7 linked regions of the Homo sapiens genome follow. The protein of the gene in region 1 purifies or fractionates together with the protein of each later gene. This does not show direct contact. Each region holds a gene or a part of one and is shown in the gene's direction. Other genes may lie near its edges. The genes, in order: INPP5K, CCM2, C10orf88, KATNA1, ABHD10, EDC3 and NADK.

What was found.
Region 2: the proteins of INPP5K (region 1) and CCM2 purify together in Homo sapiens (co-immunoprecipitation; one large-scale study listed by IntAct). This does not show direct contact.
Region 3: the proteins of INPP5K (region 1) and C10orf88 purify together in Homo sapiens (co-immunoprecipitation; one large-scale study listed by IntAct). This does not show direct contact.
Region 4: the proteins of INPP5K (region 1) and KATNA1 purify together in Homo sapiens (affinity purification with mass spectrometry; 2 studies listed by BioGRID and IntAct, with this or other methods). This does not show direct contact.
Region 5: the proteins of INPP5K (region 1) and ABHD10 purify together in Homo sapiens (affinity purification with mass spectrometry; 2 studies listed by BioGRID and IntAct, with this or other methods). This does not show direct contact.
Region 6: the proteins of INPP5K (region 1) and EDC3 purify together in Homo sapiens (co-immunoprecipitation; one large-scale study listed by IntAct). This does not show direct contact.
Region 7: the proteins of INPP5K (region 1) and NADK purify together in Homo sapiens (co-immunoprecipitation; one large-scale study listed by IntAct). This does not show direct contact.

What each region holds. Positions count from the first base shown.
Region 1 is NC_000017.11:1,496,845-1,499,612, reverse strand, and holds part of INPP5K (inositol polyphosphate 5-phosphatase K), read left to right. Parts: intron 1-1,490; coding exon 1,491-1,677; intron 1,678-2,768. UniProt on the Homo sapiens protein: Inositol 5-phosphatase which acts on inositol 1,4,5-trisphosphate, inositol 1,3,4,5-tetrakisphosphate, phosphatidylinositol 4,5-bisphosphate and phosphatidylinositol 3,4,5-trisphosphate.
Region 2 is NC_000007.14:45,073,201-45,076,953, forward strand, and holds the end of CCM2 (cerebral cavernous malformations 2 protein), read left to right. Parts: intron 1-259; coding exon 260-371; intron 372-1,069; coding exon 1,070-1,208; intron 1,209-2,576; coding exon 2,577-2,857; 3' UTR 2,858-3,253; downstream 3,254-3,753. UniProt on the Homo sapiens protein: Component of the CCM signaling pathway which is a crucial regulator of heart and vessel formation and integrity. May act through the stabilization of endothelial cell junctions. May function as a scaffold protein for MAP2K3-MAP3K3 signaling.
Region 3 is NC_000010.11:122,940,728-122,944,227, reverse strand, and holds part of C10orf88 (ATPase PAAT), read left to right. Parts: intron 1-3,500. UniProt on the Homo sapiens protein: ATPase that regulates mitochondrial ABC transporters ABCB7, ABCB8/MITOSUR and ABCB10. Regulates mitochondrial ferric concentration and heme biosynthesis and plays a role in the maintenance of mitochondrial homeostasis and cell survival.
Region 4 is NC_000006.12:149,642,215-149,645,714, reverse strand, and holds part of KATNA1 (katanin p60 ATPase-containing subunit A1), read left to right. Parts: intron 1-3,500. UniProt on the Homo sapiens protein: Catalytic subunit of a complex which severs microtubules in an ATP-dependent manner. Microtubule severing may promote rapid reorganization of cellular microtubule arrays and the release of microtubules from the centrosome following nucleation.
Region 5 is NC_000003.12:111,989,026-111,991,446, forward strand, and holds part of ABHD10 (palmitoyl-protein thioesterase ABHD10, mitochondrial isoform 1 precursor), read left to right. Parts: intron 1-1,674; coding exon of another isoform or gene 1,675-1,716; exon of another isoform or gene 1,717-1,726; intron 1,727-2,351; coding exon 2,352-2,421. UniProt on the Homo sapiens protein: Acts as an acyl-protein thioesterase that hydrolyzes fatty acids from acylated residues in proteins.
Region 6 is NC_000015.10:74,686,025-74,689,524, reverse strand, and holds part of EDC3 (enhancer of mRNA-decapping protein 3), read left to right. Parts: intron 1-2,345; exon of another isoform or gene 2,346-2,434; intron 2,435-3,500. UniProt on the Homo sapiens protein: Binds single-stranded RNA. Involved in the process of mRNA degradation and in the positive regulation of mRNA decapping. May play a role in spermiogenesis and oogenesis.
Region 7 is NC_000001.11:1,754,471-1,757,970, reverse strand, and holds part of NADK (NAD kinase), read left to right. Parts: intron 1-660; coding exon 661-790; coding exon of another isoform or gene 791-864; intron 865-1,088; exon of another isoform or gene 1,089-1,192; intron 1,193-1,313; coding exon of another isoform or gene 1,314-1,362; coding exon 1,363-1,468; intron 1,469-1,627; coding exon 1,628-1,713; intron 1,714-2,494; coding exon 2,495-2,597; intron 2,598-3,272; coding exon 3,273-3,427; intron 3,428-3,500.

The sequences.
Region 1 (2,768 bases):
CAGTTACCTAGAGGAGGAATGCATTTTGTCTCCGGAGCGTATTACCTTTTCCAAACCCCTCAGGGAAACTGGCAAGTGAAGAACAGGTGGGAGGTCTCTCAGTCGACTCCTTTTTTTTTGGAGATAGAGTCTTGCTCTGTCGCCCAGGCTAGAGTGCCGTGGTATGATCTCAGCTCACTGCAACCTCCGCCTGCCAGCTTCAAGCAATTATCTTGCCTCAGCCTCCCGAGTAGCTGGGATTACAGGCACCTGCCACCATGCCTGGCTAATGTTTGTACTTTTAGTAGAGAGTCAGGATGGTCTCGATCTCCTGACCTCATGATCCACCCACCCTGGCCTCCCAAAGTGCTTGGATTACAGGCGTGAGCACCGCGCGCGGCCTCTCAGTCGACTCTTGAGAGGAAATCATAAAGGCCAGTGTGCATGGCGAGCTCGTTTTGCACCAAGCACTGTGCTAAACATTTTATGTACTTTATCTCATTGACTCATCCTAGCAACCCTTCATGGTAACTACTGTTATTCCCTCCACTGGCAGGCGAGGAAGTTGAGGCCTGAGAGAGGTTAGTTTAGTTTGGTGGTTAAGAGCACATGCTCTGTGGTCATGCTGGCTGGCCCTGAATCCTGGCTCCACCACTTAGTACCTTGTGACTTTGGGAAAGGTGCTTCCCCTCTAAGCTAAGTCTCAGTTTCTCCACCTGTAAAGAGAGCATGATACACCCAGGCACAGTGGTCCATGCCTTCTAATCCCAACACTTTGGGAAGCTGAGATGGGAAGATCCTTTGAGGCCAGCAGTTCAAAACTAGGCTGGGAAACATACTGTCTTTACAAAAAAATGTTTAAAAATTAGCCAGGCATAGTGCCACGCACTTACCGTCCCAGCCACTCAGGAGGCTGAGGTGGGATCGCCTGAGCCCAGTAGTTTGAGGCTACAGTAAGCTGTGATGTCACCACTGCACTCCAGCCTGCATGACAGAGCAAGACCCTGTCTCTTTAAAAAAATAAAATTAAATTTAAAAAAAGGTGTGGTAACAGTACTGATCACAGGCATCCTCTGGTAAGCATTTCCTAAATGCTTCCCTTCCCTTTCCTGAGGCATACTTCTAGTATGCAGGGCAGCCAAATACAAGCTCAGGTGTGTCCAGCCTCAGAATCTCAAACCTCAGCTGCTTTGATCCACTGCTGCTTTTGCTCAAGAAAGAAGCAAAGCTTTGAAATGGAATGTTTCTGAGTCACAATTTGATCCATAAAAACATGAGCTAGACATACAGAGGGTCCTGGCTAAGTCTGACAAGTGCTGGCATACTTTGGATTCTGTTAGGCACCTTCCTGCCTGCTGCCTTGCTCCCTCCGGCTCTGGCCCCGGGGGTCTGTGGCTGCCAGTAGTTGCTGGAGTTAGGGGCTCCAGCAAGCTCATGTGGGCTCATTTCTGCTCTTAGCCAACCCTTTCTTCTTTCCCCATTCTTCCTCTTTATGCCCCCTGCCCCTGCAGTGAGAAAAAACGCAAGCCTGCATGGACCGATCGCATCCTGTGGAGGCTGAAGCGGCAGCCCTGTGCTGGCCCCGACACTCCCATACCGCCGGCGTCACACTTCTCCTTGTCTCTGAGGGGCTACAGCAGCCACATGACGTACGGCATCAGCGACCACAAGCCTGTCTCCGGCACGTTCGACTTGGAGGTGAACTTCTGGGCTGCCTGATACTTGCCAGAGGAATAGCTATGCTGGCCACATCCCCAAGCCCTCCATCCCTGGATTCGAATGTCAGCCAGTCCCCCAGGGGAGACCTGTGGAGGCCATGATTGCCTTTCCTGCCAGGTCGGATATCCCAGCTCCTCTTAGGAGCCGTTGATGGCTCTGTCTGTCAAAACCGTGTTCAAACCCTTTGTGAAAAGGTTTCCATTTCCTTTGGGTATTCTCCCTTGGGGCTAATGAGTTCCATTAGGCTTATTACCCAATGTGAGAAGTAGGACTTCTTTTATTTGTCCTAAATCTATCTGGATCAAGTTGCAACGGGCGCTCCCTCCATCCCTGCGTCCTTGTATCTTGCTATCTGAATGACCAAGGTGGTGTTGGCCTCCTTCAGGCTGCTGCCCCTCAGCCTTCACGTTTTCATACAGGTTTACTGGCGTGTGTGTGTGTGTGTTAGGGTCTCGTTCTGCCGCCCAGGCTGGAGTGCAGTGGCGGTATCATAGCTCACTGAAGCCTCCACCTCCTGGGCTCAAGTGATTGATCCTTCCACCTCAGCCTCCCTAGTAGCGGGACTACAGGTGCACGCCACCACGCCTGGCTGTTATGTATTTTTTGTAGACACAGGGTTTCACTATGTTGCCCAGGCTAGTCTCGAACTCCTGGGCTCAAGTGATCCTCCCAAACTGTTGGGATTATGGGTGTGAGCCACCGTGCCTGGCCCCCGCTGGTATCTGCGTTGTGTTCTTGCACGTTCACAGCTGTTCTCACCAGAGCATCCCCCCATGTGGGGCTTTGGGTCAGATAAGGCGGGAGGCCTGAGAGCAGCTGCCTGGCCGCCTCCTTAAGCCTCTCAGCCGTGCCTCTGCTCTCCGCCATTCCTACCCCCCAGCGCTGGGCCCCATGGGATTCCGACAGGGCCAGCCACCCGCCGACTGGTGTTCGGCCCTCTTTCCTGATGGCCAGCCAAGGTCCGTTGGAGCAGCCCAGTGGAGTTCCATGCCCACCCCCTCTGGGTGCCCCACCTTCCCCACTATGTTGGAAGGGCACAGTGAGGAACACTTGGCCTCAGAGGAGGGAAT
Region 2 (3,753 bases), on another chromosome or scaffold:
GCCCACTGCCTTGACCTGTGTACTCCCTCTCTTCACTCAGAGCCCAACTCAGAGCCATGCCCCCGGGGAGCCCCAGGACCAGGCCAAGCTGACCACCCTGCATGCCCAGTCAGCTCTCCTCTCATCATCATCATCATCACTTACATTCCTCTGTTCAAGGACAGGGACCCACACACACGGCATGGACTAGGTTTCCTGAAACGTGTGTGGGATGGAGGGTCGGGGAAGCCACCCGCTCACATACCACATTCTTTCGCAGCTGCTTCCCTGAATCTGTGGATGTGGGTGGTGCATCACCCCACAGCAAGACCATCAGTGAGAGCGAGCTGAGCGCCAGCGCCACTGAGCTGCTGCAGGACTACATGCTGACGGTAGGCCTCCGCTGCAGGGACGCTGGGCTGCATGAGGGAGGGGGTGCCCCAGGGAGGATGGGGGGAAGGGGAGGAGGAGGAGGAGCAGTGCAGGGCAGGCTGCAGTGAGTGAGGTCACCTAGAGCACTCTTGGTCAATTTTGCTGACATCACTGCCTTTTCCTGGGGATAGTCTAGGAGAGCATCAGTCAGTGGGGCTGAGTTGGGAGTGCTGTGGCCGTCAGGGCTGGACTGTGGGCCTGTGCTTGGGTCCTGGGGGAGGGGAGGGAACGGTGGCCCCTGCAAGGCCACATGGCCAGACATTTTTATCCTCCCCATCTTATATAGTTCTGTCATTGCAAACTCAAGTCTTCCTGATTTGCCTGTGTGCCTGTGTGTAGCCTAAGGGCACAGGCATTGGCCCCGGGCCAGGTTGCCAACTTCCACCCTGCCCTGCTGGCTCCTGTCCCTCCCATGCACTCTGTGTTCCAGCTCAGGAGAGTGGAGCTGCCCGGGTGCCTTGGTCTCCTCTGGGTGGCCCCGTGCCAGGTCTGGTAGGATGGGGACACATTGTGGTCATTCTGATGCCCCAGCCTGTGCAGAGGTGAAGCCAGAGACAGCTGGTGCTCTGGCTGGGGTTAGTGGCTGTGGCAAGGTGGGCCCGACTGCCGACTCTTGCCTACTGTGCCCAGCCCCCTATCTGGCTCTGCTCTCTTGCAGCTGCGCACCAAGCTGTCATCACAGGAGATCCAGCAGTTTGCAGCACTGCTGCACGAGTACCGCAATGGGGCCTCTATCCACGAGTTCTGCATCAACCTGCGGCAGCTCTACGGGGACAGCCGCAAGTTCCTGCTGCTTGGTGAGTGGGCCCTGGAAAGAGGGTGGCTTGTCCAAACCTGGCTTGGAGAGGCTGATCCCTCCTGGGAATGTGCACACGGACCCCTCAGTGGGTGCAGCAGGGGCTCCATCAGGGATGGGAGATTTGAACCAGAGATGGCATGAGAGCAGAGTCCAGAGATCGGGGAATCTGCTGTGATTAGTCAGAAGGGCTTTTCCCAGGTACTGTTGGGGGCCCACCGACAGGCCTTCATTCTCCTGGGAACTCAAGCTGAGCTGGGTGGGCCCTGCCAGGAAGTAGCAGAGATCCCCCAGGAGCAGGGCTGGGAGTGAACACAACCCTGAGATTTAGGAAAACAGTGCTGGAGGAGCCAGAGAGGCATGGGTTTTGGTGAATGTGTAGGACTTCAAGGCGGAAGGACCAGCGTTTGCCAAGACCCCTAAAATGCTCGGCACATTAGGTCAGTGCGGCTAGAGGGCTGTGTGGTCTGAGCAGCAGAGTTGGATGTTGGCCCCACACCTCTCAGGGGCGGTGACTTAGCTGTGGTTTCCCTCTGCCGACACTTAGAACACAGCAAGTTTGCGGTAATGTGTTGCTAGTAGCCAGTTGAAGGCTTCTGGGTCCTGGCCTGTTTTCCCTGCAAACCAAGGAAGGTGGGTTTGTTAACCATCGTACCGACCTGGCAGTGGCAAACGTGGATTGCCTGCCCAGGGCTCCCCGCTCTTAGGAGCGTGAAGGGCTGGAGGCTGGGGCAGCCTGTCTGTACAATAGGTTCTGTCTAAGCAGTGCCTGCCCCTTCTGTGCTGGGCCCTGCGTTGCCTCCTGGCATGGGACTCTGTCTGCCCCTCCACATCGGGGAGTAGAGATTCTGAGAGACACACTAGGCTTCCCAAATAAGAGGGCAGCCCTCTGAGTTGGGACAGTCACCTAGGTCATGGCAGGGAAACTGGACTTTGGCATGAGGCCTGCCTCTGAGGACTGCACCCTTGTTGCCGGGTGCCAGCAGGTGGCTTTGAGCACTGCTCTGGGCCTCAGCTTTCCCCACTGTAAAATGGGTCCTTTGTGAGGACTAATAGAGAATGAGAGGAGGCCACAGGTTCTTGGCCTGTGCTGGTGCCTTGAGGCCAGGGAGTGTGCATGTGGCAGAGGCAGTAAGCTGTCAGGGCCAGCAGCAGTGTCTGTCAAGAGTTGAGGTTTTAGCCAAACTGTCTGGCCCCAGGAAGCATGATTTCAACCAGGATGCTAGATGCAGTGAGCATGGCATCAGGGTCCCCAAGGCCATGCACCAGGGGCAGCTGTGGCCCTGTCAGGGGGCTTTGAGCCCTGAGAGAAGAGCTGAGTGGGCTGAGCCGAACTGGAGGTGCCATGCTGGGTGTTGTGTGTCTGCAGGTCTGAGGCCCTTCATCCCTGAGAAGGACAGCCAGCACTTCGAGAACTTCCTGGAGACCATTGGCGTGAAGGATGGCCGCGGCATCATCACTGACAGCTTTGGCAGGCACCGGCGGGCCCTGAGCACCACATCCAGTTCCACCACCAATGGGAACAGGGCCACGGGCAGCTCTGATGACCGGTCGGCACCCTCAGAGGGGGATGAGTGGGACCGCATGATCTCGGACATCAGCAGCGACATTGAGGCGCTGGGCTGCAGCATGGACCAGGACTCAGCATGATGGACAGTGGATGGGGGGGCACCCACACCTTCCGCGCAGTCGTCATAGGCCTTCCCAGAAGGAGCTGCCCAGACCTGCGTGTCAGCCCTTGGTGGTGGCCAGGGAGAGGCGCCCGGTGCAGATGGCCCCGGGCGGCCCAGGTCCTCTACTGTGAAGGAGCAGGGAGCTGCCGAGGGACACGAGCCTCAGTGCGGGGTGGAAGGCTCTTTGCCTTGTCCACCAGGGCTCAGCCAAGCCCTGCAGTGTGTCCCCGCTCGGGGAGGGCCCGGCCGAGCGGGCAGGGAGAGCCAGTCCTGTCGGCTGGGCCCTTGGACGGCTGTCAGTTTTGCACATGATGTTCCTATTGTAACTCTCAGAGACCTTAAAAAGAAGTTTACTGCAATGTGAATAATTTAATCTCTGGTTGCCAAGCATGTTTCTGATCCAGTTGGGTGAAAGCCATCGGTGCCAGGAGGGGTGTCCGCTCTAGCCTCTGTCCCTGGGTCCCCATCTGCCCTGCAGCACCTGGGACTCGGCAGTGGTCCCTGGGGGCTGGGGTGGAGGAGGCAACAGGCTCTTGTGCCACAGGAAGGACTTGATTTGGACTTGAGCAGTGTGGATGTGGGGCAGGAGCGGGTGTTCTGAGGCCTTTCGTGGGCAGCGTGTGTGAGGGTAGCGTGTGTGGCATGTGTTGGGGGCACCTTGATCTTTACATCCTGTGCACTGAATCCTTCAAGGTCACTGGCTGTGCCCCGCACCCCCCCTCCCCCCAACCCCATGCTGCAGGTTTTTTCCTCAAGCAGCCTGCACTACCCCGTGGAACAGAAATGCTCTCTGAGATCTCGTCACCTTGGAGCCTGGGGGCTGGGTCTTCAGAGGCCAGTGTGCAACTCTGCCGACCCTCCCTGTGCCGTCAT
Region 3 (3,500 bases), on another chromosome or scaffold:
CCCTACAAAGGACATGAACTCACCATTTTTTATGGCTGCATAGTATTCCATGGTGTATATGTGCCACATTTTCTTAATCCAGTCTATCATTGTTGGACATTTGGGTTGGTTCCAAGTCTTTGCTATTGTGAATAATGCCACAATAAATATATGTGTGCATGTGTCTTTAGAGCAGCATGATTTATAATCCTTTGGGTATATACCCAGTAATGGGATGGCTGGGTCAAATGGTATTTCTAGTTCTAGATCCCTGAGGAATCGCCACACTGACTTCCACAATGGTTGAACTAGTTTACAGTCCCACCAACAGTGTAAAAGTGTTCCTATTTCTCCACATTCTCTCCAGCACCTGCTGTTTCCTGACTTTTTAATGATTGCCATTCTAACTGGTGTGAAATGGTATCTCATTGTGGTTTTGATTTGCGTTTCTCTGATGGCCAGTGATGGTGAGCATTTTTTCATGTGTTTTTTGGCTGCATAAATGTCTTCTTTTGAGAAGTGTCTGTTCATGTCCTTTGCCTACTTTTTGATGGGGTTGTTTGTTTTTTTCTTGTAAATTTGTTTGAGTTCATTGCAGATTCTGGATATTAGCCCTTTGTCAGATGAGTAGGTTGCAAAAATTTTCTCCCATTCTGTAGGTTGCCTGTTCACTCTGATGGTAGTTTCTTTTGCTGTGCAGAAGCTGTTTAGTTTAATTAGATCCCATTTGTCAATTTTGGCTTTTGTTGCCATTGCTTTTGGTGTTTTAGACATGAAGTCCTTGCCCATGCCTATGTCCTGAATGGTAATGCCTAGGTTTTCTTCTAGGGTTTTTATGGTTTTAGGTCTAACGTTTAAGTCTTTAATCCATCTTGAGTTGATTTTTGTATAAGGTGTAAGGAAGGGATCCAGTTTCAGCTTTCTACATATGGCTAGCCAGTTTTCCCAGCACCATTTATTAAATAGGGAATCCTTTCCCCATTGCTTGTTTTTCTCAGGTTTGTCAAAGATCAGATAGTTGTAGATATGCGGCGTTATTTCTGAGGGCTCTGTTCTGTTCCATTGATCTATATCTCTGTTTTGGTACCAGTACCATGCTGTTTTGGTTACTGTAGCCTTGTAGTATAGTTTGAAGTCAGGCAGTGTGATGCCTCCAGCTTTGTTCTTTTGGCTTAGGATTGACTTGGCGATGCGGGCTCTTTTTTGGTTCCATATGAACTTTAAAATAGTTTTTCCAATTCTGTGAAGAAAGTCATTGGTAGCTTGATGGGGATGGCATTGAATCTGTAAATTACCTTGGGCAGTATGGCCATTTTCACGATATTGATTCTTCCTACCCATGAGCATGGAATGTTCTTCCATTTGTTTGTATCCTCTTTTATTTCCTTGAGCAGTGGTTTGTAGTTCTCCTTGAAGAGGTCCTTCACATCCCTTGTAAGCTGGATTCCTAGGTATTTTATTCTCTTTGAAGCAATTGTGAATGGGAGTTCACTCATGATTTGGCTCTCTGTTTGTCTGTTGTTAGTGTATAAGAATGCTTGTGATTTTTGTACATTGATTTTGTATCCTGAGACTTTGCTGAAGTTGCTTATCAGCTTAAGGAGATTTTGGGCTGAGACGATGGGGTTTTCTAGATATACAATCATGTCATCTGCAAACAGGGACAATTTGACTTCCTCTTTTCCTAATTGAATACCCTTTATTTCCTTCTCCTGCCTAATTGCCCTGGCCAGAACTTCCAACACTATGTTGAATAGGAGTGGTGAGAGAGGGCATCCCTATCTTGTGCCAGTTTTCAAAGGGAATGCTTCCAGTTTTTGTCCATTCAGTATGATATTGGCTGTGGGTTTGTCATAGATAGCTCTTATTATTTTGAGATATGTCCTATCAATACCTAATTTATTGAGAGTTTTTAGCATGAAGGGTTGTTGAATTTTGTCAAAGGCCTTTTCTGCATCTATTGAGATAATCATGTGGTTTTTGTCTTTGGTTCTGTTTATGTGCTGGATTACATGATAATAACTCTTTTAATGGAAGATTTTAAAAAGGAAGCAATTGTTTGTGAACAAATTTTGGTAACGATTAGAGGATATTAATTAGTTTACTGTCTGATTATTTTAAAATCTTGACACTAGGAAAAAATGAAACTAGATATATTTTTATTTTGGCTGTGTCTTTAAATTTTTATAGTTTTATTTATAAATAATTTTTCTTTGCCATGAATTTTAACCAATACAGAAGTGTTAGGTAAAAATTAAAAATGTTTTCCAGCTGTCATTCTATACCCCAGAGGATACACAGCTAACAGTTTGGCGTGTATCCTTGTAGAGTTTTTTTATGCATGTAGCAACACAGAAGGCTCTCCCCCATGCCACCCCACCCTCAGCCAACACTCATGGGTTACTGCTATGTACACTGTACAATAACTTACTTTCTTCTCACCACTAATGCAGGGACATTTCTGGGACACCCTGGGGAAGAAAGAAGGTGATAAACAGTTCTGTGTCCTTTTAAACATGCTAATGGAAGACTTCCTTCCTAGTAAGAAAAGTCCTTATTTATGGAGTGATTCTTACAGGATGTACCTGGTTCTCTAGGATTGCTTATTGATGACAAACTAGGCATCTATACATTCTAAGGCATAGAGAATGTCATATAAGCTGTGTAACTTTCTGCACATAAAATGGGAATGTTTCATGACCAAATCAACTCCTTCCGTGTAAGTGGTGTGATCACACATGTTGTTTGGGCAGGACTTCTCTTGGGGGAAAGGAAGGACCTCAGAAGTTTTGGCTTCTCTCTGGCTTACCTGTGCCTTGGAATTACTTGTTTTCTCGAAAGTTTGATTAAAGTTCAACACGCCAAGTTTTGTGAGTCTGAAATGCAATCCAAACCTTTGTGATTTCTCAATAAGTATTAAGATTATTTTTTATTTCCTTCTATTTGAAGTTCAGTTTGCTGGCTTTGATTTGCTTTTGCTTTAGCAATTTAGAATTCTTGAATAGGAATTCTATATCAAAGGGTGTAGCATATGATTGTCATTTAATGTTATCTGAATGAAAGGATATGACCCATTTTCTCAAAGAAAACATATTCAGTTATTTAGGAGTTATACTCTTGCTTTTTTCTCCTTCAAAATAAAAATGACTTTATTATTTAATTTCTTTCTGATTATTAAAGGTGATACAAAAAAATTAAAAAGCAAAAAGGTATAGGAAATTCATACTTTCCTAAATCCTACAATATATTTAAAGATAAACTATTATTTTTTCAGAAATCTCTATTGTGTGTATACAGAATATATGTAGTTATACATATACACATACACATATCTTTGTAAGTATATGGACACAGTTCTCTCTAAATGCTTTCATACTGCATATGTTGCTCAGGAACATTTTTCACTTGAAAGGATATCAATAAATACAGCTTTCTATGGTTTTATGAATATTATGCAGTTACCTATTCATGGATATTTAAGTTTCTTCAAAATTTTTAATAGCATGTTAACAGTGGAGGCT
Region 4 (3,500 bases), on another chromosome or scaffold:
AACTCATAAATACTCAAGGCATGTAAGCAAAAGGGTGGTTCTGTTAGAATAATGTAAAGGAAAAACTTGCTGTGAATAAAGCAGGCATAGTGTATGGTTATCCTTCTCTCTAATAATCTGTGTAACCAAGAGCCTGAATTTTGGGGCAATCTCATCTTTATAAGTGTTCTATTAATGTTGAACCAATAGATTGTGTTTATAGTTCATGGTGCTTACACTGAGTCAGTCAGCTTTTTTTTCTTTCTTTTTTTTTTTTTTGTTTTTTGTTTTTTGAGATGGAGTCTTGCTCTGTCGCCCAGGCTGGAGTGCAGTGGCGCGAGCTTGGCTCACTTGCACGCTCTGCCTCCCGGTTCATGCCATTCTCCTGCCTCAGCCTCCCAAGTAGCTGGGACTACAGGCGCTGGCCACCACGCCCGGCTAATTTTTTGTATTTTTAGTAGAGATGGGGTTTCACTGTGTTAGCCAGGATGGTCTTGATCTGACCTGGTGATCCACCTGCCTCGGCCTCCCAAAGTGCTGTGATTACAGGCGTGAGCCACTGCGCGCGGCCAGCTTTTTATTTCAAATGGATTCAATTCTTCAAATATTGCCAGATATTGTGCTTAATACAGCCAGTTTCTAGTCTTCCTGCAGTGGAATTTTAGCAATGATAAAGATATATTGTTGAAAATTGGGATAATTTCATAAATTTACAGTTGTGACATTCGAGAAGGATGTTTTGGGCTTAGAGAGTAATAAGGGAATGGGGAAAATTATTTTCGGCTAACAATTAGGGAACTAAGAGTGCTTTAATACTATTTTCTGCAAGCACATTGTTTCTTTGATAATCAGGGATTTTTCAAGTCATTTGTTAATGTGGCCTTGGATTAGACTTTACATTCATGTTTGTTAGAAAATATCAATTCATTGGCTTCTAAAGAATTTTATCTGACTAGAAAGAGTTCAAAACATGGAACCTTTAAAGAAGGCTTGGAGGGACTTGTATGAGTTTTGGGCCGTTGAATCATGGCCCTCAAGAAAAAAACGAGGACCACCTATATATAAGTAACAACTTAATTTAAATTTATTTTTATTTTATTTTATTTTATTTTTTTGATACAGAGCCTTACTCTTTTACCCAGGCTAGAGTGCAGTGGTGTGATCACAGCTCATTGCATCTTTGACCTCCTGGGCTTGGGTGATCCTCCCACCTCAACCTCCTGGTAGCTGGGACTACAGGTGTGCCCTGTCATGCCCAGCTAATTTTTTGTATTTTTTGTAGAGACAGGGTTTCACTATGTTGGCCAGGCTGGTCTTGAACTCCTGGGCTCAAGCAATCCTCCCACCTTGGCACCCCAAAGTACTAGGATTACAGGCGTGAACCACCATGCCTGACTATTTTAGATTTTTTTTAGTGGGAAAATGGGAAGAAAGATCTCCAGGGAGACTATTAAGGAAAAGAGGGAGAGAGGCTTTCATGTCAAAAGACATGAAAGGCTTTTGACATCCAAGCTCATCTAGAACAACTATATACTTTTAGCAGCGGGTCCCAATTATACTTTTCTAACACCCTTGCCCAGACTAGGTGTCTCTGTAGGGCATGGATGGCTTCAGGGCAGAAGTAATCACACAAGAATCAAGCTGTAATCCCAGCTTGGAAGGGATGAGCTGAGGATCAAGAATGTGACCATGCTGAGGGTCAGGAACTGGACAAGGTTACGAACTCTTGGTAGTTACAACAAAAACCTGGCCAGGCATGGTGGCTCACGCCTGTAATCCTAGCACTTTGGGAGGCTAAGGTGGGCTGATCGCTTGAGCCCAGGAGTTCAAGACCAGCCTGGGCAACATGGTGAAATCCCCATCTCTACAAAACATACCAAAAAAAAAATATATATATATATTAGCTGGGTGTGGTGGTACACATCTGTGGTCCCAGCTACTCAGGATCAGTTGAGCCCAGAAGATCAAGGCTGCAGTGAGCTGTAATGGCACCACTGCACTCCAGCCTGGGCTGCAGAATGAGACCCTGTCTCAAAAAAAAAAAAAAGGACAACAACTAGGCAGTATTCAGTCATTCAAAGGTTGATTGAGATCTACATTTGAGGACATGGTTCTAGGTGCTAGAGATGTATCAGTAAATAACAGAGAGATATGGTCCTTGGCCTTTAGGCTTTTATTAAGATAGAATATGATCAGTGGTCATGAATCCAGGGAGGCAAGATTTAGGTGATAGGATTTTATTCCTTTTCTTTTGGAGCTCAGATGCCCAGTCTTGAGTTACTCATAGACCTTAGTTCATAGCTATATTGCTTCATAACAGATTATCCCAAAACTTGGTGACTTAAAACAACAGACATTTTTTATCTCTTTCACTGTTTCACTGGGTCAGGAATTTGGGCATGACTTAGCTGGATGCCTTAGATTCAGGGTGTTTCTCAGAGCTGTGATCAGGTATTGGCCAGGCCTGTAGTCATCTCAAGGCTCTAGTGAGGAAAGATTCACTTCTGATCTCACTCACATGGTTGTTGGCAGGATTCAGTTCCTCAGGGGCTGGTGGACTGAGGGTCTCAGTTCCTCACTGATTGTTGGCCTGGATCCTGCCTCAGCTCTTTGCCACATGAGCCTCTGCCCAGGCAGCTCACTCTGTGGAGCTGGTATTCCATTTGAGTGGGGCCAGCAAGAGACAGCAAGCAAGATGCAAGTCATAGTCTAATCTCGGAAATGGTATTATGTTATTTGTTACAGGCACACATTCAAGGGGTAGTAATTATATAAGGGTACAGATACCAAGAGGCAAAGGTCATTGAGTGCCATCTTAGAGGCTCCCTATGATTATCCATGGATATAAGGCCCTTCTTTTGTTATATTTATTTTTTGTTTCTCTCCTACTTGTCATAAGCAATTTCTCCACTCACATATTTTCCTCCTCACCTTCCATAGACTCTCTAATATATTTAAGGTACTTTCTTGGATATGTATGCATCCTTTAAAAATGAGTATTTTATATAGCATATGTATTTTTAATTTATAAAATGACATTGGGATTTAGATCTTGTTCTATGTCTGAGACCTTTTTTTAGCCAACCCTGTATTTTGATGATCCATCCATGTTGCTATATGTAAATTTTATTCATTGCTTCTGTCTGCTACATGGTACCATGTGGTCTGTATCCACCATATTTCCCCTAGCAGGGAATAAATAGATTGACTCTACTTGATTTCTCAAAGATTTCTGTCATTAATGTCCAAAACCAAGTTCCTTTGTGGATCTGTGTGAGACTTTCTCTGGAAGATTTACACAAGAGTGGGATTGCTGGGTCATGGGGTGTATATATACATATATATGTGTGTGTATGTGTGTGTCTATGTACATATACATGCATACATAATTTCCCCAAGTACTGCCAGATTGCACTCCAAAATGACTATGCCAGTTTATTCCTGCAAATTGATGTAAAGATTTCCTTTTTCCCAAATCCTTGCCAATACTTAGTATCATTGCTTTTTTGAGTCTGGTAAAT
Region 5 (2,421 bases), on another chromosome or scaffold:
ACAGAAGCATGTTGAGCCCTTGGTTAACTTAAAAGCATGTATAAGGAAAGAGCACCAACACTAAGACCGCTATCTCTTCTCCACATAAACAGCTAGCCCTAACAATGTCAACGGAGCAGATGTGGAGATTTTTACTATCTTTTATAACCCTGGGAATAGTAAGCCCAGCATTTCTCATTTCTTCTCTAAGAACTTGACCATCCTCTTTAACTGACTCTAATCATTATCACCTTCTTTGGACACTAGAGGGCCTCAGACATGATGCACAGCTGTTGGGAATGTAAGCTTCTGAACCACATTGCCTTGATAAGTTTTGTTGATGTAGAACTTAATATATTGTACATTTTCTTTGGGTAATGTCTTTGCTGTTTCTGAACTTTTTGTTCTTGAGGACTTGAGACATACAACATTTTATAAAGTTAACTTTGTTCTTCAGATGGACCATTTTCATTCAATTCAGTGGCAGGTAGCAGAGCTAGTTGGGGGCCAGGGATGCTTAAAATGAAACTATTATTAATTCAGTGTCGCCTTAATTAGCAAAGCCTCCACTTCAGCTAATAACCAGTGGGACTAAGTTCTATCTGCTGAAGTATTTACAAATTCAGAAACAATCCTGAGTAGCTTGAGGATAGCTAAATGTCATCTTTACTTTAAATATTTGGTTCATATGTTGTTTTAATACAGAGAATGCCATGATATTGATATAGATTTATATACATTTTATAGTTTTGTAGAATTTCATTAATTTTAAATCATTTGGAGACATATTTAGAAGTACAGTTTTTTTTTTACTGAATTATTAAGTCTTTTTGGAATTAAAAATACATTAAAGCCTAAGTACATATAGATTATATTATGTCATACATATTTTTTAAGTTCTTGTTTTCCTTTTTACATTTGCAATAAATTAACAATTTTAAACATGGGAAAATCATAGTATATTTGTTGAAACTTTAAATTTTTCAAATATGTGTAGCTTTTCTTTCCTTATTTTTTAAAATTTTTGATAAGATGTCCATTCCATTTTTCTAGAAATGCCCTTAATATTATATGATTGTAACAGTCTTGAAACTATTCATAGCTTGATTTTTGTTTTAGTTTTAAGCTGTGATCATCTTTCCAATAATCTATTATATATAAATAAACTTTTATGCTCAAAAGTGTTCATGACAATACCACAGTATGAGATGGTCAAACTAATTAAGTCAATTATGGTGGACTGCTGTGCAGCATTTAAAACCTTTTCATAGAATTTTTTAAACCCAGAAATATATGTACTAAATAAACAGCATAGAAAACTGTATATGAATGTGTAATATGTATGTATTTTACATATTACACAAAAACCAAAACACATATAGACAAATATTGGAAGGAAATAAGCCATATATTAATGGTTTTTCTCTCCATAAGATAGGATTATGGGTGATTTATTTCTTTAATTATTTTTATGTTTTCTATAATGACTGCATGTTACTCATTATACAAAATTCTAATTTTTTTAGAAAAATTAAGATAAATTATATAAAAAATAAGAGTTCTCAAAAAGTCAAAGGACATGTATATTTCATTTTAAGGGAATAAATATACAGATATTATTGTTTGGCTTTCAGGAAGTATGTGGAAGACTTCTTTGTCATCCAGAACAAAAATCAAATTTTTTCTCTTTTATAGGACTCTGGAAGGAAAAACTATATTTCTTTACATTCAGCCTAAAATTGCATGAGTATGTGTATGATTGTTACAATGTAATTACTCTTATTTTTTTATTCTTAGTTCTGTGTTTGATTCTTTCTCTTCTTTCCCTATGCCATATCCATTTTAGCTACTTATAAGCACTTTTAGGTTTACAATTTTGAAATCTAAACAATGTTTATTCTAAGATTTGATTTTATTTAAATATGAATGATACCTGGACTGATTCCAAGAAATTGTAGTGCTTTTCTCCCTCTTCATTTTTCTTTTCAGTTGGGGTGAAGCAACATCTGATTTGAGATAGTGTATGATAAAATTAAATAAATTTAAATTTAAGTTTGAGTCTTAGCCATAACAGTTAGTAGCCTAGCCCTGAACTGTTGCACACAGTATTTCATTTATCTAAACCATAATATCCTCTTTTATAAAAATAGAATAATAACAGAATTATTATCAGAATCTTATGGAATAATATGTATAAAATACCCATCACAGTACCTTGCATGTAGTAATTATTGATAATTATTATTGTTATACTTTTGTTATCTCTATCCTCTTATTCAAGAACTGCTTTCATTAGATTACTTAAAACTATTGCATGTGTTAATGTTGCCTAAAGTCACAAATACTTTTATTTTTCTTTCTTTTTCCAATAGCTAAAAAAGGAAGTAGAGATGAAAGGTGTGTGGAGCATGCCATCAAAATACTCTGAAGAAGGAGTTTATA
Region 6 (3,500 bases), on another chromosome or scaffold:
AAGAAATGGAGGGAGAAGGAAGACAAATAAGACTAAATGAACTTTGGTAGCAAGTTCTTGACTGAATAGTAATTCACAACATCTCTGAATTCAGTAGTCATTACAATTTTAGGAATAATTTATTGGGAGAATAACAGTATCAATGAAGCAAGAGTAAATAAGAAGTATGTTTAAGAAAATACCAAAACCATTGCACCCCACCAGAATGAGTAAGTTGAAGAGAACAATAGTACCAAGTTTTGGCAAGATGAGGAGCAGAAAGAACTCACGTATGGTGGGTTGTATAAATGTAGATGGTAATACAAAATGGTACAACCACTTTGGAAAACTGTTCAGTGGTTCCTAATAAAGTCATAAATATAACATGACTTCCTGTGTTATATGCCCAGTAGAAATGGATGTATTTGTCCATCGCAGAAATATACTGTATACAGTTTAAGAATATTATTTGTAATAAGTCAGAACTAGAAATAACCCAACTATGTATCAGCAGTAGAATGGATAAATACATTGAGGCATGCTTACAGAAAACAGCACAGCTATGAGAAAGAATAAACTTCTGATACATGCAACAATGGGGATGAATCTCACAAATGTACTTTTTTTTTTTTTTTTTTTGAGACAGCATCTCGCTCTGTCACCCATACTGGAGTGCAGTAGCAGGATCTTGGCTCACTGCAACCTCCGCCTCCCCAGTTCAAGCGATTCTTGTGCCTCAGCCTCCTGAGTAGCTGGGATTACAGGCATGTGCCACCACGCCCAGCTAATTTTTTGTATTTTTAGTAGAGACAGGGTTTTGCCATGTTGGCTAGATTGGTATTGAACTCTTGACCTCAAGTGATCCACCCGCCGTGGCCTCCCAAAGTGCTGGGATTACAGGCATGAGCCACCATGCCTGGCCTCACAGATGTACTTTTGAGCAAAAGAAGACAAACACTCTGAAAGAGAACCTTTATGATTCTGTTTATGTGAAGCTCAAAATCAGGCTCAAATAATCTTTCATGATAGATGTCAGAATAATAACTACCTGTAGGAGGACACAATGGAGCCTTTTGAGGTGTTGGAAATAGTCTGTCTTGTTTTGAGTGGTGGTCACATGGGTGAATTGATATGTAAAATTTCAGGGAGGTGTACACTTAAAATATGTAGACTGACTTACTGTATATGTTATACCTTGATAGAAAAGTAGAAAATAAAAGACAAGATTGGTTCCTTGTAGCTCCTGTATCTCCTGTACTTCTTTTGACGTGGAGGTGTTAGCTGTATAATTGATGGAGCCCCTTCCCTAGTCCGATTAGGAACCCAGTTGATGGGCACTGTACTTGTTTTAGATTTACTGTTTTCTGTAAATAGCATAATTTTCTTTATAGAATAAACCTGTTTGAGGAGTTTTGAATAATGCTATTTTACCAAGGGAAGTTTCTGAGGAAAGGGAAGTTTGTTACACATTCAGTGGTTATATTTTTAAAAGTTTCTATTAATATTAACTACATAGAAGAACACTTATAAACGAGTATCCACATTTTCAAAGTGTTAAAAATTCTATTCAGTTACTACTACCATAATATAAACTTGAATGCACAACATCAGTGTCTTAAAGATATATGTTAAATAAAACAGTAAAAGCCTTTTCATATCTGGTTAATTTCTGGTGCTTTTTATTCTGCATCTATCTAAGCATCTGAGTAGAATTATGATGGATTATAAATGATAGGAAAGGAAACTCATGCTTTTGTGACATTAGGCAAAGGTTGATCAGGAAGGGAAAAGAAGCCTAAAATGTGTGTATTTTGTGCTTTTTTACCATCATCATTATTGTTGAAATTGTGTTGCATTGAAAATTTACCCAAGGGCCAGGCACAGTGGCTCATGCCTGTAATCCTAGTGCAGAGGCTGAGGTGAGCAGATCACCAGAAGGCAGGAGTTCGAGATCAGTCTGGCCAACATGGTGAAACCCCATCTCTACTAAAAATACAAAAATTAGCTGGGTGTGGTGGCGGGCGCCTGTAGTCCCAGCTACTCAGGAGGCTGAGGAAGGAGAATTGCCTGATTGAACCTGGGAGGCAGAAGTTGCAGTGAGCCAAGATTGCGCCACTGCACTCTAGCCTGGGCGACAGAGCAAGGCTCTGTTTCATTCTATAATAAATGTAACAAAAAAAAGCCTGTATGAGCCTGCTAATTCATTGTTCTTTTAATCTTCGGTTCTGTCCGCATAGTTTTATGATACTGGCTCAGTTAGATCACTAGAGAACTATCTAGAGTTTGATTAATCCCTAGAGCTGGACTCTTTCAGACTTAGTGTTTCTAATGGGGCATACTGTTTTTTGTTTTTTTTTTTGAGACAGGGTCTTGCTGTGTTGCCCAGCCTGGTCTTGAATTCCTGGACTCAAGTGATGCTCCTGCCTTGGCTTCCCAAACTCCTGGAATTACAACTGTGAGCCACTGCACCCAGCCAGGAGTGCTTTATTTTTATTTATTTTTTATTTTTTTCTAGACGGAGTCTTGCTCTGTTGCCCAGGCTGGAGTGCAGTGGTGCGGTGTCGGCTCACTGCAGGCTCCGCCTCTTGGGTTCAAGCAGTTATCCTGTCAGCCTCCTGAGTAGCTGGGATTACAGGTGCATGCCACCATGCCGTCCACGTCGGCCTCCCAAAGTGCTGGGATTATAGGCGTGAGCCATTGCGGCTGGCCTGGAGGAGTGCTGTATATGCTTTTTTGCCCCTTTCCCTTCATTTATGTATTTATTTTGAGACAAAGTCTTGCTCTTGTTAGCAGGCTGGAGTGCAGTGGCGCAATTTCTGCTCACTGTATCCTCTGCGTCTTGGGTTCAAGTGGTTTTCCCACCTCAGCCTCCTAAATAGCTGGGATTACAGGCACCCACCACCACACCTGGCTAATTTTTGTATTTTTAGTAGAGATGGGGTTTCACCATGTTGGCCAGGCTGGTCTCAAACTCCTCAGGTGATCCACCTGCCTCGGCCTCTGAAAGTGCTGGGATTATAGGAGTGAGCCACCGTGGCTGGCCTATTTAATTTTTTTTGAGATGGAGTCTTGTTCTTGTTGCCCAGGCTGGAGTGCAATGGTGTGATCTCAGCTCACTGCAACCTTCGCCTCCCAATTTCAAGTGACTCCCCTGCCTCAGCCTCCCAAGTAGCTGGGATTACAGGCATGCACCACCATGCCCGGCTAATTTTTTTTTTTTGAGACCGAGTCTTGTTCTCGTTGCCCAGGCTGGAGTGCAATGGCACGATCTCAGCCCACTGCATCCTCCGCCTCCCGGGTTCAAGCGATTCTCCTGCTTCAGCCTCCTGAGTAACTGGGATTACAGGAACATGCCACCGCATTTGGCTAATTTTTGTATTTTTAGTAGAGATGGGGTTTCACCTTGTTGGTCAGGCTGGTCTCGAACTCCTGACCTTGTGATCCACCTGCCTCAGCCTTCCAAAGTGCTGGGATTACAGGCGTGAGCCACTGCGCCCGGCCAATTTTGTATTTTTAGTAGA
Region 7 (3,500 bases), on another chromosome or scaffold:
AACACCGGGCACAGTGGTCGGGGTCAGAGCCAGCAAAGCGCGGGTGGCTGTGTCAGGGCTGCCACGGACTTTTAAACCTGTGATTTTTACTGTGAGAGTGAGTGAGGTTAAAGTCCGTTCATGCAGGGAGGTAGTGAGCTGTGTGCAGGGGGGGAAGCGGGTCCTTGAGGGGTCCTGGGCTCCCGTGGGGCCAGAAACTGTGTGCAGAGGATCCTAGGGACAGAGTCACCATGTCAACTGGTTTGGGTTTTCGTGGGGGCCTGAGGAGGGCATCAAGCAAAGAGTGGCCCAGCCATGGGCTTTCGTGGTCATTTCTGCCCCACCAGCGTCACTGAGGAGCCAGGCAGGCAAGTGGCCGGGGGCTGGGAAGGGCTGTGGTGCGTGCACTTGGGTCAGCGTGGTGCCCGGGTGGGGGTTGTGGGCCTGAGCCTGCGTGTGATGGGCCAAGCAGGTGAGAGGTGGTCACTCCGGACCCTACTGACCCCTGACCCTGTCTCTGTGGCGCGACCCTAGGCCCTGTGAGCCCGTGGCCACCGAGCACGTTTCCCTGGGAGGTGAAAACACCTTTTTAAAGATTTTTTTTTTTATTTTCTAAGTCATACACCTTTTCCGCAAGAGGGAGATCGCAGCTGGTGTGAACTCTTTTCTCCTCCCCTAAAGGCACATTCAGGACCCCGCGAGCCAGCGGCTGACGTGGAACAAGTCCCCAAAGAGCGTCCTTGTCATCAAGAAGATGAGAGATGCCAGCCTACTGCAGCCGTTCAAGGAGCTCTGCACGCACCTCATGGAGGCACGCGGGGCAGGGGGGAAGGGGGCCTGGGGTGCACATGGAGTTGGGGGGGCCTCCATCCACATCACCGCCCCGTGAGACCATGGGAACCACCTCAAGTGCTGGGCAACGGCTGCTTGTCTGGAACTGGGGACTGAGTGGGGATCTGCCGGGTGTCTGGGTTTGTGTGTGCCGCCATGGCAAGCACCAGACTGGGTGACCAACAATGAGCTGGTGGGCTCGTGGCCCTGGAGGCCGGGAAGTCCGAGATCAAGGGGCCACATCTGACGTGGGCCTTCCTGCTGTGTCTTCTCTTCAGAAGAGCAGGCGTGGGGGTTGCGGCGCCCAGGAAAGCCACTCCTGAAATAACAGCCTTAGTCAATTCCTGAGAGGGAGCCCCCTCCGCCCAGTCATCTCTTAAAGGTCCTGCTTCCTCCTGGCGCGTTGGTGATGAAGTTTCAGCGTGAGCGTGGGGGGGCGGGCATGCAGGCCACGATGCCAGGTCTCTGACCACAGCGCCCGTGAGTCGGGAACCTCCCTGCAGGAGGGTGGGGTCTGCAGGTGGAATGAGCAGGTTGGCACTTTGCTTCCAGGAGAACATGATCGTGTATGTGGAAAAGAAAGTGCTAGAAGACCCTGCCATCGCCAGCGATGAAAGCTTTGGGGCAGTGAAGAAGAAATTCTGTACCTTTCGAGAAGGTGGGCTGTCAGCAGCTCTGTCCTTGGTTTCTCCAGCACAGTTCCCCGCCCCATTGGAAGCTTCTGGCACTGTTGCCCTTGTCATTGGTGTCTGCGCACTGCGCCACAGAGGGGCCACTGTGTGACAGCCTCTTCTTGGTTTTGCTTTGTGTTTCCTAGATTATGATGACATTTCCAATCAGATAGACTTCATCATCTGCCTGGGGGGAGACGGGACGCTGCTGTACGCTTCCTCGCTTTTCCAGGTGAAGCGCTGACATTTCCAGACCCACACCAGGTTCTAGTCTAGGTGCTGCGTAACGAGGGGCTCACAAGCATGGCTTCCATTGCTTTTCACCCCTTTATACGAGAGCAGTCACCTAGAGCGGCCAGCACTGAGGCCCATGGTGGCAGCCCGGTGGGGTGCGACGGTGGGGCCAGGGGCAGTGTGGACACAGTGCTACGGCTGGGGGTGGCCAGCGCCCGCCTGGGACAGCAGGGAGTGGCGCAGGGTGGTGGGTCCTGGGAAACGACCTCGCCTACTGGCCCATCCCCTCTGGGCCTCCCTTGAGCTCCTCTTCCTGGTTTCTCAGCAGCACAGCTCTCCCCTGGGGCTGTAGGGCCACGCTGTGTGGGGGACCCTGGCTCTGCCCTTGGCCCACTGCATGTTGGTGACACCGGAAATGCCCGCAGCCCGCCCTGCTTTTCTCCCCATCTCCCCATTAGCACCTGTGGGGCGCGAGGCTCCGACCCCAAGGCTGCCTCCCACCCGCCCTCGCCAGCTCCCCCAGCCCTCCGTGCCCAGGGGGCCGCTCAGCCCTGCCACCTTTGTTCCTCACCAGCTCCCCACACCAACCTTGGCCCTGGTGGCCCGGCCCACCCTGGCCTGCGACGTCCCCCTCCGCTTGTCCACATGGCCAGTCCCTCCTGCAGAGGGTCGGGGTGCTGTCCCCACAGAGCTGGGTCCCTCCTGAGGTGCTGCTGGAAAGCTGGGTGGTGCGGGGGTGCACGGCGTGGGCACTGAGTGACCTCTCCGTCGGCTCACAGGGCAGCGTCCCTCCGGTCATGGCCTTCCACCTGGGCTCCCTGGGCTTCCTGACCCCATTCAGCTTTGAGAACTTTCAGTCCCAAGTTACTCAGGTGATAGAGGGTGAGTTGGAATGTTCTGGAGCCCACAGGAGCTCTGATCATGGCGCTGCTGTCTCGCTTGCTTGCGGGGGGTTTATTTTCATTTAATGATGCATGGAGCAACATTTAAAGGTTTCAAGATTCAGGGATTTCTAAATCTTGAGTGGTTCAAACCTTTTACTGACACTGAGAAGTTTCAGCAGATCACAGGTTGAAGCTGCCATGTGTGTTGGGCAGAAGTGAGCTGATTCTCACTCTCAGAAGGCACAGAAGTGTCGGCCGGGCGCGGTGGCTCACGCCTGTCATCCCAGCACTGTGGGAGGTCGAGGCGGGCGGATCACGAGGTCAAGAGATGAGACCATCCTGGCCAACACGGTGAAACCCCGTCTCTACTAAAAATACAAAAATTAGCTGGGCGTGGTGGTGCGCACCCGTAGTTCCAGCTACTTGGGAGGCTGAGGCAGGAGAATCACTTGAACCTGGGAGGCAGAGGTTGCAGTGAGCCAAGATCACACCACTGCATTCCAGCCTGGGTGACAGAGTGAGACTCCATCTCAAAATAAAAAGAAAAAGGCACAGAAGTGTGTCAACTTGGGAGAAGAAAGAGCCCTCTGACTCCCACTGGCCTCCCTGGGGTGGGGCCCCTGACCCCACTGACTTCCCTGATGCATGCCCTCTGACTCCTGCTGGACCTCAGGGAACGCAGCTGTTGTTCTCCGGAGTCGGCTGAAGGTCAGGGTGGTGAAGGAGCTCCGGGGGAAGAAGACGGCCGTGCACAATGGGCTGGGTGAGAACGGCTCGCAGGCTGCAGGCCTGGACATGGATGTCGGGAAGCAGGCCATGCAGTACCAGGTGAGTGGAGGCGCCTCGGCCTCGGTGAGGGGCCCAGGGTGGGGCGACTTCGGTCCCAGGGATGAGGACCTTC